Linked DNA regions of Homo sapiens. The protein of the gene in region 1 interacts with the protein of each later gene in a biochemical or structural test. Each region holds a gene or a part of one and is shown on either strand. Other genes may lie near its edges.

Region 1 (7,086 bases):
ACCCCCACTCCTCTCATAATACAAAGTATGTAATCTGTCATGCAGAACCTGTGACACACTGCCAGGCAAGGAGCATGAGTCTCTGGCTCTTGCTCCACGCGTGCAGAAAAGGCAGTTCTAAAATCTCTGTGTGTACATTAATGCCCATGATGGCAAGTGGCATGGTGTTAGGGAAAAATGCACCATGTGTGTTTGCGTGGCCTAATGGCTGTGTATTCTAGGGGACGTGGGGACACTGGGTATTTTTTGGCAAGGCCTCTTTATGTTCCATCATTCTTTTGTGACAACCAGGACAAAGAACATGATTCCTGCTGATCAACGATAAAGCTGAGGCCTACAGGGGTGAGGCAGCTTGCCTGAGCTAGTGTTCCCTGCACCTACCTGGATGTACTTCATGAAGCGGTGGCACTTCCCACAGCGTGAGAGGGGCTTGCCTGTGGCCGCCAGGGGCGAGAAAGACACCTCCATCAACTCATCCATGCCTGCGGGCAAGCAGAGTGCAGGAGTCATCTCCCTCCCAGTCCCCAGCAAAAGGCTCCGCAACACGTGGTCAAGGGTCTGAGTGTGAAAGGGTCCCTATAGGCGGTGGTTTCTACTGTCCTGGCAGCACGGCAGGGCAGCAGCCCTGTGCGTCAGAGGCACGTGTTCCTGGCCATGTGTGGTGTTAATGCACCTGCTCTTTCAACCCAGCCAGGAGGTGTCACTGACCTGGCCTACGGAGGCCTGAAGCCCAGATCTGGGAGCTGGTCCCACGTGGGGACCTGGGTCCCCAGGTACTGGCCTTGCTGACAGAGAGACACCCCTCTGGTGAGGGGCAGGCCAGAGGCAGACTCTACCAGCAATGGAGTCGACAAAGTAGTGGAACTTCCTCTTGAACACGTCCAGGGTGTGGCCCAGGACCTGGCGGTAGTCGGCCTTGCCCTGGGCGATCAGGTTCAGCTGCTTCTCCACTGCACTGCGGATGGTGGGGAGCACCAGCTCTGCATCTGCAAGTGGGCAGGGGGCAGATATTGCCCTGAGCACTCGCACCCAGGGCCATGCCACCCCTTCCCAGGCAGGGATACTGCCCTGTTCACCCCTCCCGCTCTGGCCCGTCCTCCTGGCCTCTGCCCTACCCACCAGTCCACAGCCTCAGATGGTACCAGGCTGGCTCTTATGACCCCAGACCTTTCCTGATTTCCCACCTGGAAATGTCAGGCAGAGTGGCCAGGGATGTCCTGTGGCTAGAACCACATCACACATGAGCTCCAGGCCGCCCTTGGGCCAGTTTTGTGCTCCTCCCTCTCCCCTTGGCCCCTGGGGAACCTCCAGGGAACAGGGCTGAGGCAACTTCGCCTCCCTTTTTGGTTCCCTCACACATCTGTTCAGCCTTCAAACACACTGAGCTCCTGCTCTGGGCAGGTCCTGGGGGTCCTGGGGCAGCACCCCTTCAGCGGGTGTTGAGGGAGTGTGTGTGGGGCTGGGGGATCACTGTAGGGCAGGGGCCTGTCTGGAGCGGGCAGCAGAGCCAACATCCAGGGAGAAGCCAGGGAGCCTCGGTGGGCCCTGGGGGCAGGACTGAGGAACTCACCAATCTTATAGTAGCCGTGCACCAGGACGATGCCGAGGTTGGTGGGCTTGAGCCGGCGCCCGCTCTCCACCGTGACATAGTTGCGCTGGCAGATGTTGTTGATATGCACAGGGATGCTGGCATCCGTGCCTGCAATGTACAAGGCCCCAGGGTTCCTGGCCTGCCTTGGACATGCCCCACTGAACCATGTGCTGTATCACCTGTCACGGGGCCCCTGGTGCTCAGGCCCTCTCACTGCTCCCGGTCACAGGAGGGAGGGCTGTGCCCTGAGCTCCCCCTGCACTGTGCTGGGCACCAACTGCATGCATTTCATGTTCTGCCTTGAGAACACAAGGGCAGCCCTCCCTGTACAGGGCGCCTACTCCTGCTTTATGGCAGAGACAACAGGCTCGGAGGTTAAGGAACTCTCCAAGGTCACAGTGCTTATTCTGCGCCTGGAAAATGTGACTTCTATGGCTTCTCCTGCCTGGGTCCTGTGGCACCCACCTGCTCCCGGAGCCAGAGCCCCACTCCACCAGAACACGGAGGTGCTTACAAGCTCACTGCAGAGCTGCCCTCCCCTAAACCTGGACAATTCTGTCCACTTCCTGTCTCCCACCTCCTCCCTCTCTGCAAGGCCCGTCACGATCCCCAGGGGAGGCTCCCAGTCCCCAGGATTCCACTCTCCCACCCAGAGGAAGTTTCCTGGCAGAGGGGCGCAGCGGAGGCTGAGGCGTTTTGACTATGGCGGGTGCCAGTCAGAGGGGCAGAAAGGAGGCTGGGGCTCCCTGCATGCTCACCAGCATGGACAGGTGACACACACCTTCCCAAAGTAGCTCGGAGAGAATCTCACATGGGAAGAAACTGGCCTCTGGGGGCTAAGGAGCCTGCCGAGGGCCCATGGCTCTTGGCACGAGGCCAGCTCTGCACCCGGTGTGGCAGGCTGTGGGTGGCGTGTGCCACTACCACCCCGAGTCTGCCGGGCGCCATGACGCGTGGTGTGGGCTCCTCTGTGGCGGCTCTGGTCAGGCCCTTTTGACACACTCCTGGGGGCTCAGTCACAGGGCCACCCTGACCACTCTCCTGTTCAGAAGGTAACACCAGAGCCCTCTTCACTGTCACAAACTTGTATTGGTGATTGGGTCTGGCTCACTGGCTAGCATAGGGCTGCCAGGAGCCAGTGTCCCATCAATGCGAGAGGGCAGAGGACACGGGGGAGCAGAGCCCACACTCCACAGTGGGCTGAGGGCTATTTCAGGACCCTGGCAGGTGCCCTGGACCCCTGAGAGGAGCAAGCCCAGAGCTCTGCTCTCCTGCCAAGATCGCCATGGTCACCAGGACCCCAGCCTGGGAAGAGACACTCCCTGAGAGTCCACCTATATGACCACTGCTGGAGCAGAGCCTGGACACAGTGGCTGTGACATCCCACAGGTCTCCAGAGCCTGTCAGCCAGGGGTAGTGCCCCAGGGAACAGGCAGTGCCCAGCGGCGCGAGTGCCACCTGGGGAGAAGGCTCCGGCAGTGAGGCTGGCCCCCAACATGTGAGACATCTCACAGCTCCAGGCCTGGGGACTTGTGAGGCCACCACTCCTGTGAGGAGTGTGCACTGGTGACTACACTTTTGCTTTGATAAACTCCCTGGGCTGCCCATTTTTGCGTGGAAACTTCCTGGTCACCCTTTGGGGAGCCCTGTGCCTGGGACAGGCATTTCTGTTCTCTCCCAGGGAAGCAGCTCCTGTGAGATCTCATTTCCCTGTCACCTGATTTCAGGACAGCCCAGGCTGGCTGTGTGGACTCAGGGGACTGCCAATATGATTTCTATGAGTCACCTGGCATCTGGGCCAATCTTCAGCCTTGTGGGCGTTAGTCGGTGTGTGCACACCCCACAGTGCACGAGGGCACATCTGGGCCTTCACAGGGAAGGCCAGGTCCTGAATGGAGGCCTCAGGAGGGGATGCCCGCTGTGGACCTGCCTGGCTGGCCACACACTGGGTCACCAGTTTCCAGATACCAGCCCATGGAGGGGTGCTGGGCTGGGCACACAGGGCTGGCGGGGCAGCTTTGTGAGTAGACTCGAAGCCTGAGTACTGGAGACGGAGCCGGCTCTGGGGCCTGGGCAGGCGCACCCACCGATGCCATGCTTCTCCATGAGCGTGATGAGCTCGGCCTCCGTCAGGTAGTCGGGTGGGTTCGTCTGCTTCTCCAGCATCTTCACCTCGCCCACAGGGAAGGCATCACCCCGCTGGCAAGTGGGCAGGCTCTCCTCCAGGGGCACGCTCTGCCAGGGCATGACCTCCGTGAAGCCTGGAGAGATATGCGCCGCCACTCAGGGTCCCCAGCCTGGGTGGCCGGGGCCTCAGACCCTGGGCCTCCCATCCCCAGACACGATGTAGAATGTTTGTCTGCCCATGAAGGCACAGAGGAGGAAGGCTGGGCCCGTGGTGTGACCTGGTGAGAGGACGGTCTTCCCGGAGCAGGTGAAGAGCTCGGGCCCAATTCTGAAGGAGATGGTGCTCTGCAGGTACTTGCAGTCATGGCTGACCGTGGCGATGAAGTGTCTGGTGATGTACTCATAGAGCCGCCACGCGTCACCCCCTGCAACAGGCCAGGGCTAGTCAGTTGGGAGCCAGCTGGGGGCTCTGGCCGTGAGGAGCCCCCAGTACTCTCGCTCGAGCAGCAAGCTCCTGCTTACAGAGCCGCTGTGCAGGACACACTGCAAATCCTGGGGAAGGAGGAAAGAAAATGTGCAGGAAGGCCGGGCGTGGTGGCTCATGCCTGTAATCCTAGCACTCTGGGAGGCTAAGGTGGATGGATCACTTGAGGTCAGGAGTTTGAGACCAGCCTGGCCAACATGGTGAAACCCCGTCTCTACTAAAAATACAAAGAAATTAGCTGGGTGTGGTGGTGGGAGCCTGTAATCCCAGCTACTCGGGGGGCTGAGGCAGGGTGAACTGCTTGAACCTGGGAGGCAGAGGTTGCAGTGAGCCGAGATCGGGCCACTGCACTCCAGCCTGGGTGACAGAACAAGACTCTGTCTCAAAAAAAGAAAAAAAAAAAGCAAATGCGGAGGAAGGGAACACAAGCCTCCATGCCTCAGTGGTTTCTTTCTGGCTGCGGCTCCCACCATCCTGCACAACCTCCTGTCCCTGCTTCTGGCGGGACTGCTCTTCAGGCATTGGCCTGTCTTTCCATTGTCTCGTGACATGACACCATTGCTTCAAACTCAGACTGTCCACAGGTGGCTCCTGTCTCTACCTGCACTGCTCTCCCTTCCTCATTTGCCTTCTCCTGGCACTCGGACCACTGGTACCACCTTAGGCCAGCTGGGAGGTAGGAGGTGTGCTGCCCCCTCCCCCACACCGCCACTCTCTACCCTGGTTTCATTCATGTCCCCTGTGGCGTCTGCCCCCTTGCCTCCCTGCAACAGCACCTGCTGCTACCTCTTCACTCCTGTCCTGGTCCCATAGCAATGGAGCTCATCTTCCAGGTGGCCCCCCATCCCCACAGCCAGGGCAGGCAGAGGCTGAAGGAGCCCCCACATTGCCAACAGGGCCTGCAACCTTCACTGTCGCAGCTCGCCCTTCCCTCCCTGGAAGCACACCGGGTATGGGATGAGAGCGGTACCTAATTCGGCCTCTGTGGCAGACTTCATGGGGGTGATGGGGGGATGGTCGCCGGCGTCATGGCCTTTCCGCGGGCGGTTGATACCTTCTGCTAACAACCGCTTCACCTGAGGGAGAGAAGACAGAGCAGAGTCTGTGGCTGGGCTCGGCTGCCTGCCTGGGTTTGGCTGACGTACCAGACCTGGTCCCAAGGCCTCAGTGACACACACACATGCTGAGGCCGGCCCGGCTCCACTCACCGTGTCGGCCCAGTAGGGGTGGTTGGCCTGCTGCCGCAGAGAGCCCTTCAGGTCAAAGTTCTCAGGGTAGTGGGTGGTCTCTGTCCGTGGGTAGCTGATGTAGCCTTGCGTGTAGAGCCGCTCAGCCGTCTGCATGGCGTGCTGCGGCCCCATGCCTGCGAGAGACAGGAGGTTCTCAGAGGGCCAGGTACGTGGGGATGGCCAGCTGCCTGCCCTGGCCTATGCACTCAGGCTCCCCCATTGTGGCCGGCCCCTCCTGGAGGGTGACGGTGGCTCTGAGCAGGCACAGCTGGAGTGCAAAGCTGCTGGCCGGGTGGGCACCTATGCCACACAGTCTTGTATGAGGCTGAATCCCGCACCCGTAAGGCTGAATCCTACACCCAGGATGGGCCTGATGGGAAACGCCACTCACTCTACCCCACGGTGCATCCTCATGGGGCTCATGGCCATGGGGATGACACATGGCCTTCAGAGCACCACTCCCCATGCATTGTCCATGGAGCCATAACCATACCTCGGGGTTGGCTGACGACAGAGTTAGCACGCAGCCCCATTTTGAGCCCTTGGGTGTTTCTGTCCTCACAGCACTTTGGGGCCACTCAGGGGGGCTCGTCCTGCTACTCCCTGACCAGCAGAGGCAGGCGCTTAGCTAGCAACCACTCCCAGCATTGCTGCCCTCTGAGGACGCTGGAGCCACCACTCAGTGTCCACTGAGAGGACACTGCCCATAGTTCCCTGCGGGGGTGGGGGGCACCAATGCCTAGGGGCTGACAGCTGCCAGAGACCACCAGCTTTCCAGCCCAACCCCCTCCTCGTTACTAAGGAGAAAAGACTGAGGAGATGAGGCTGAGGGGCGACGTTCACACTGGTTCCCTGAAGGTGACATCTGGCTGGGGCCTCTCCCCTCACCAGGGATAGCTGCTCAGGGACTCTAACATCAGGAGGTCCCCTCAGGTGGTGACCAACTTTACCACCTTTACAACCTAAGGATAAGTGAAATCCTCCTGAGGCTCAGATCCCCTTGAAGCCTTGGGCACCATCCTGCAACCCTGGGCACTCGCTGCTCCAGGCTGAACCTGCCTCAGGAAGCCTTCTGGTGACTTGAGAGAAATGTCCCTACATACCCAGAGAAGAGCTGGCCACACGCAGCATCTCCACAGTGTTCAGGGCCAGGGGCCTCTGCTTGGCCTTTTCTTTCCTGCTTGTGGCCTCCACCTGGAAGACAGGACAGTCAATGATTTGGGGAAGGAGGAAGACACCACCATAGAGGGAATCAAGATGTGTGGACGAAGGGTCTGGTTTCATTCATCTGGTCTCCCTGTTTCTCCAATTCATTCTTCCCAACAGTCTAAAGACTTGATTGAATATTTATTCAGGACCAGGAAAGGAAAAAGAATGAAAATTCTTTTTTAAAAAAAAATTTTGGCTGGGTGTGGTGGCTCACGCCTGTAATCCCAGTACTTTGGGAGGCTGAGGCGGGTGGATCACCTGAGGTCAGGAGTTCGAGACCAGCTTGACCAAGATGGTGAAACCCCGTCTCTACTAAAAATACAAACATTAGCTGGGCATGGTGGAACGTGCCTGTAATCCAAGCTACTCGTGACGCTGAGGCAGAATTGCTTGAACCTGGGAGGTGAAGGTTGCAGTGAGCTGAGACCACGCCATTGTAATCCAGC
Region 2 (7,169 bases), on another chromosome or scaffold:
TTGTTATCTAGATAAATTCAGAGTCAAATTTCTTCTCCCCGTGAAGTTATTCCATGCATATAATTAAGCTTTACAAGGTACCATTTAGTGCATTATTTAAACATTATCACTACTCTGTAGAAAGCCCTGGAACATTCAAGTTCAAATCAGCAAAATCTAATAGTTTGTGTGCTACTGGCCATTGAAGAACAAAAATTATTTTAAGTCCGCCAGGTAGCTACTTTTGAAGTTATATTTTAAAATACTGATTTTTATAGGGGTTCTAATGAAGATTAAAACCTTAAGAAGGAAAAAAACTGCGCTTAAAAATAATGTAAACTTGAACAGATTGGTCTACATAGATCTTCTGTACCCCCCTGAAGATCACATTTTCAGAATTGTAAACTTTTCAGCACTAAATATTTCCCTAATCTGCTATTTTAGGTGAAGCCTATAGAACAGATTTAACAATAGTGTGTCCATGTTTTAGCATCTACTTCTTTTTAGCTTCTACAAGTAACTAAGTACATAGATTTGAATACTAAGAAAAATGGTTTGTCAGTGACAGTTAACAGAGAACCCCAAGTGTAAGAGCAAACTCAGGATATAAGAACTAAAATGAGTTGGTGAAAGCCCTTCAGTCAGAAATTTTCCCTCCAGTGCTCTTTTCTGCCTTTAAACCTTTGTGATTCTAAATTTTAACATAGTAAGTCCCCAATTAAAGACCTAGTAGAAGCCACCTGAAAGCCTAGGAGATCCTCATGCCTAGTCTGTTCGAGACCTAGCAGGAATTACATGAAACTCACAATTCCTAGAAAGATAGTGTTTTTAGCCCCGCAGATTACTACTGCCTTTATGAGTCACTGCCATACAGAAGCAGCACAGACAGGTGGGAGAAACATAAACAGTTAAGTTGCAATATAAAGTAGCAAATGCTACAATATAACATTGCTGAAGATTTATAACAATATAACGAAGCAGGGTGGGACTCTACCTAAGCTTCTGCAGAGGCCCTGCCCAGAGAATTCTGACTGGCAGGGGCATTCCAAGGTCAACTGTATTAGACTTTACAGAGAACCTACAATCTGGTGCATTTCTTGACAATCCAGATAAGGAGAAAAATAAGACTCACTTCCCTGCCCTGGAAAAGCATAAGAGGCCAGAGAAAACAAAGTCAACACGTGTTCGGGACCTAAAAAATGAGACTAATCTTTCCAAAGGAGGGGGGGTCATGTTGGAAAGCAGTAAAATACTGAGTTTGTAAATGAAAATATTACTAGTGTGAAGGATCAACGCTCAACCTAATGAGAAATGGGGAGAAAGGCAAATGAAAGAGGGATCCAAGATTATTCAGGACACCCTTGTGGGTAAAAAAACTGAAAGAAGAGATTCCTATTGAACAGAAACAAAACTGAAGACAGTGTTTTTAACTCTACAATCTTTTACGCCCATGCTGTTCTGCGAAAAAACTGTAACAACAATAACGCATAAGCGTTAAAGGAACCAGGCCCAGAGCCAGGCCCTCTGTGCTCAACATTCAACTCCACCACTTTCTAGCTATGTCATTTTGGGAAAGTTACTTAACAGCTCTTTGCCTCAGTCTCCTCACCTGTAAAATGGGGTGTATAATAACACAAGTGCCTTTAAAATCAGGAGGGGCTTCTTCAAAGCACAGTTGTGATTATATCCCTCTACTGATCAAAAACTTTATTCACAAAATCAAATCCACATCTTTCACGAACCATATAGATCTTGTGTAGGTTCTGCAAAACAATAAGCGCTTCCCTGTGTCATCTCCAGCAGCTCTGTGCTAGAAAGCCTTTTCCTTACCATCTTTCCAAGTCCACTTTAGGAAAGTAACTCTCCCTCCCATTCCACAGTGCACTCATCTGTTCCTCTGTACGTACGGTTTATCACTATTCCCCCTGGTTTTGTTTGGTCTTTTAATGCCTCACTCTTTCTCCTAAAGCAGTAATTGCAGAGAGCCGTTGCAAATCTTTTTCATCCCCGTTCCTACCCTTCATCCCAGAATGTGCCTGTGCAAGCCTGGGAAAAGCGTTACTGAATTAAACGGGATGATTACAACCGTAATGGCCGCAATTCCAGAAACTGCCTAATTTCGCATAATTTTGTATTGTTTTCAAATCCTGAAAATCTTGACACGAAAGGCCTCTTAAAATCAGAACACCATCCTTTCAAGAAAAGTTCTACCGAGCACCCCCACGAGTTGACATTGCGGTCATTCTTAGCTCCAGAAGTTGTGTGTGTGCCGCGGAAGGCAGATTCACACTGGTCCACACTGTACTTTGAAATAAGGGGTAAGAAGAGGCGGCTCCGGCCGCAGCGCGGGCTGTGCTCTGCTCTGCCCTCAACTTCCTATGGGCCCGCGGGCTCCGGCCGCGTTCGTCCCTCTCCGCCGCACTTCGTTCCCAGCCCTCGCCTCCCGATCCCGCTGCAGAAACACCCCCTCCCCGGAGAAGCCGCGCGGACGGCGCTGCAGGTCCTCCCCGGCGCTCCGGTCGGCCGGGGTCTGGGCCGCCACCCGCCCGGCTCGCGGCCCCCGGCCTCTCCCCAGGCCCGCCGCCCGCCGCCCGGGGCCCAGGCCCGCCGCCCGGGGCCCAGGCCGCCGCCGCCGCCGCCTCCAGGGGACCTAGGGGAACTCGCAGGGCTCCGCGTGGCGCCGGGGGCGGAGCCGGCCCGAAGGGCCCGGGGAGAGGCCGGGGGCGGACGACAGCCTCCGCCTACCCCGACACGCACCCCGCCGCCCCCAACCCAACCTCCCTGGGGCCCCGGCCCGCACCCGCGGCCCGGCAGCCGGCGGGACTCGCCACTTACCAACCCGCCTGGGACAACGCCGCGCCGGCCACCTGGGCCATGGTAGCTGCTTAGGCCGGGGGTGGTGGGGGGCTGGGGTGGGGGTGATGGGGAGGCCTCCTACTTGAGACCCCCCCCCTTAAAAAAAAAAAAAGAAAAGAAAAGAAAAAACTCCTCTGGTCGGCTCTGCAACTGGGCATGCTCAGTGCGGCCGGCGCTTCCGCGTGCGGGTTCCGCTCGCCGCGTTTTCTGAGCGGCCGTAGGGGCCGGCCTGGTGTGGGGCTCCCAGGCTGCGGAGCTCCGGGACCTGATCCACCAAACACCGGCTGGTGGCTGGAGTCAGGACGGTTCAGGGACTTTGCCTCTTCCCCGAAGGCTTTTACTTGTTTTGGGGGGCGCTTTTCTGAGTTGCACACCTTGGAAAGTCGCGAGGAGGTTCTTCGTAGAGCAAAAGTGTGGCGTTTGCAGCGCCCACAGGCGGCCACCTCAGAGAGGGCAGGATAAGGCCTGAGGAGACTGACGGGTTGGCTGCGAGGGAACGCGTCCAGGACCGCGCTAAAAAGGTCACGTTGCGGGCAGCAAAACTCAGAGGTGTCCCCAGCCCATTCTGCACAAAAGTTTACTTTCTTATAAACACTCGTTCCCTTCACCTCGCCTTTTGGTCCGCCCGGACGCAAAGAAAAAATGCAGCTCAAGCTTTTTTGAGTCCCCGCGGGCAGATCGAGTTGCCCCAGTCGGACACCACAGTGAAAATGCCCTGGTCAGCCCAAGAAAACCTGCTTTTAGGGGACATGGGGAAATGGGGCAGTTGTGTCAGTGCTTGTTTTTCCTGTTGCCCTCCCCCTGGGACCATCCGTGTCCTAGCGCGGCCCTGCCACCTTGGCTCTGTACTGCCAGATCTGGCAACCACAGCCGCTTCCCCGCCGATGCCCTTCGCCCGCGCTGTAGAGGGCTGGGGCGCAGGGTGGGTCCCTGAGTGGGCATGCGCGCCGCCGTCGCCCAGCGGCACGGCGGACGCTACCGCGCGATTGGGCGTCCGTGACTCACGCTGGCCAATCAGAGAGGAACAGGCGGAAGGGTACGCGGGCCCAAGAGGCGCTCCCTAAAAGTTTGCTCCACCTTCTTGGTCTTTCACCTCTGCGGCGTCCCGTATTGCGGGGAAAAAGGCTTCTAAGGGGCAGCGTCCCCATCTGCCAGGTCAGGGGAAGAAGACTGTTAGGAACTTAATCCCTATCTCCGCCGCTTGCCGCTGCCCCTGCTTCTAAGGGCATCATCAAAAACAGACTTGGAGCAGAGACTGCGGAACTGGGCAGAGGCGCTCTTGGGATTGGGGAGGAAATTGGCAGTTACGGAAGGAAGGGGATAATTGCCCTGGGTGGAGCTAAAATTCCTTAATACAGATTTTTCTCATTTCAGCTGGGGTATTCCGTTTGGTCTTCCCAAAAGTCATAGTTATAAAATCGCGATGCTTTCGTTAGATGGAATGCTATTGAGATTTGCTCCCAAGTATATTGTTTAGATAATTTTAGATCACAAGTAGCTCCATCCTGTTCGCTGCAATGTGCAGTAGTATGCAGTGTTTAAGTCATACGTATGCTACAGGTATATTTCAATTTATAGTCATCGGCCATCATATACAGGAGCCAGGAATAGATATGCCATTTTAAAGGTAAATAGATGACTCAAAAATAAATTGCCAATAATTTTTATTGGCGGTTAGAATTTTCTGTTACCAATTATTTACATTTTTCAGTTAGTGTAACCTGTTAACTATGAAAATATGTTGTACCAATCATCAGAATTTCTCACTGGTTATAAAGTCATTTGTTCTCACATGTCGTGTGATTCAGTAAGGATTTACCACTGCATGGTCCTTACAATAATAAAGTACTCCACAAAACACTAAATTCTCTTAAAGAATGGGTTTTTTACTGGAGAAATGTGGGACAACATGAGCATCCAAAAAATGGTGACAATAATTGATGAAACACATTGAATTTCTTCGGAGTGCCACCAAAAATGAAGGAGGACAAAATCTTTTCTTTCAGAGCAATACAAGATAGTAAATGTAGAACAAATGATAGAATTAGAAAAATCACAGTTTTCCAAGTCAACCACAATTGATAGAGGAAAATTTATCAGACGATACTAAAAGCCACAGGGTAAAAGACTAGGAGTACAGGATCTTCACATGGTCTCAAAGTTTCAAGCCATAACTTACTTATTACAGAAGGGAAAATGTAGCTTTACCTTTTAAAAAAAAAAATCACTGCCTTAAGAGATCAAAGCTAGAATCACTAATAATGGGACAATCTAATGTATTCTGCTTACTGATGTAATGCAACTAGACATACACATCACTTAAGAAGTATTCTTGCCAAAATGGTTTAACCTGAGTTTAACCAAGCTTGTGGACAGTGGATCCTAAACCAACCCCCACACCCCCAAATCCATTTAGCAATGTCTAGGTTGTCACAATCTGAGGAGGTAGGAGTGTTGTTATGCATCTCATGGGATGCAGCAGGAATGCTGCTAAATATCCTACAAAGCACAGGACATCGCTGAACTCCAAAGAATGATGTGGCCCAGAATGTCAGTAATGCTAAGGTCTAGATGTAAGAAGAAATGTAAAGGACGTATAGGTGATATTTGAGCAAGTTAAACATGAAGACGCAGGCACATAAATCCACAATGAGGCATATTCTCCTCTGGCCTAGACTGTTAAAATGTAATTTAAGACTTTTTTTTTTTTGAGACGGGAGTCTCGCTCTGCCGCCCAGGCTGGAGTGCAGTGGCACGATCTCGGCTCACTGCAACCTCGGCCTCCCGGTTCAAGCGATTCTCCTGCCTCAGCTTCCCGAGTAGCTGGGACTACAGGAGCCTGCTACCGCGCCTGGCTAATTTTTTGTATTTTTAGTAAAGACCGGGTTTCACCGTGTTTGCCAGGATGGTCTGGATCTTGTGACCTCGTGATCCGCACGCCTCGCCTCCCAAAGTGCTGGGATCACAGGCGTGAGCCACCTCGCCCGGCCAGAAATAATTCTTTAGAAAAAAAAAAAGAAGGCTGGGCGCAGGGGCTCACGCCTGTAATCCCAGCACTTTGGGAGGCCAAGGCGGGCGGATCACGAGATCGGGAGATCGAAACCATCCTGGCTAACACGGTGAAACCCCGACTCCACTAAAAATACCAAAAAAAAAAAAAATTAGCCGGGCGCGGTGGCAGGCTCCTGTAGTCCCAGTTACTCCGGAGGCTGAGGCAGGAGAATGGCGGGAACCCCGGAGGCCGAGCTGGCAGTGAGCCGAGATCGCGCCATTGCACTCCAGCCTAGGCGACAGAGCGAGACTCTGTCTCAAAAAAAAAAAAAATATTATTTCAGATTTAAGAGATGCAAGAGACATGAAAACAAAATTCAATCCTGGATCTAAAAAATAAATGAAAAAAATAATTACTGGTGGCCAATTGCAGAAATTTGAATCTGGACTGGATATTGGATAGTATAATGGAATATGGTTTTCTTAAATGTGATAATGTTATTGTCCTTAAATTGAGAATTTTATGTCAAAACATTTATGGATGAAGAAGAATTGGATCTACAAGTTATTTGCAAATGAGTAAGAGAAATACATTTGTAAAATATATAAAACATATAAACATTGATACATGTATATAGGTAAGAAAGAGAAAGGAGGCTGAGGCAGGAGAGTCGCTTGAACCCAGGCGGCGGAAGTTGCAGTGAGCCCAGATCGCGCCACTGCACTCCAGCCTGGCGACAGAGCGGGCCTCCGTCTCAAAAAAAAAAAGGAAAAAAGAGAAAGGAGGTAAATATGGCAAAATATTAAAAATGGGTGAATCAGTTGGAGGAGGGTCCACATGTTTATTTTTTTTCTCTAGGTTTGAAATTTTCCAAAATAAAAAGAAGCGTGGATTACACTAATTTCACATCAAAATTTTAAATTGGAATTATGTTCTGTATAGATAATTTAGTGCCATGAAAAATGGTAATAGCTAACTAGATAAAATGAATTTCCATTTTTAATTAGATAAATCATTGATTTACAGAAAATAGAAAGTCTACAATGAGCTGAAGTTGGGGGAAACCCTAAGGGTAGAAAAAAAAATTGTTAGGTCCAAGAAAACAAAAACGAGGAATGAAATCTATTTCGAGTCTGTGGTAAATTAACAGAAGAGAGAGACTGAAAATCCATTCTCCTCTGTTTCGCCTCTTATCATTTTAGTAAAGGAAAAGTTTCTCAGACTGAAAAGGGTAAAAGAATATGGGTAAGTAAGAATAGAAGCTACAATAAAAAGTGAGATGATAAGAGTGCCTGGCCCTCTGAGGCAAATTACATCTTGTGACTGTAAGCCATTTGCATCC

The links.
Region 2: the proteins of TOP3B (region 1) and TDRD3 form a complex in vitro, tested with the Homo sapiens proteins (2 studies listed by BioGRID and IntAct, with this or other methods).

The regions. Positions count from the first base shown.
Region 1 is NC_000022.11:21,958,751-21,965,836, forward strand, and holds part of TOP3B (DNA topoisomerase 3-beta-1), read right to left. Parts: intron 6,626-7,086; coding exon 6,535-6,625; intron 5,566-6,534; coding exon 5,411-5,565; intron 5,279-5,410; coding exon 5,173-5,278; intron 4,144-5,172; coding exon 3,997-4,143; intron 3,853-3,996; coding exon 3,679-3,852; intron 1,700-3,678; coding exon 1,571-1,699; intron 987-1,570; coding exon 837-986; intron 483-836; coding exon 382-482; intron 1-381. UniProt on the Homo sapiens protein: Releases the supercoiling and torsional tension of DNA introduced during the DNA replication and transcription by transiently cleaving and rejoining one strand of the DNA duplex.
Region 2 is NC_000013.11:60,393,051-60,400,219, reverse strand, and holds the start of TDRD3 (tudor domain-containing protein 3), read right to left. Parts: upstream 3,001-7,169; 5' UTR 2,856-3,000; coding exon 2,815-2,855; intron 1-2,814. UniProt on the Homo sapiens protein: Scaffolding protein that specifically recognizes and binds dimethylarginine-containing proteins. Plays a role in the regulation of translation of target mRNAs by binding Arg/Gly-rich motifs (GAR) in dimethylarginine-containing proteins.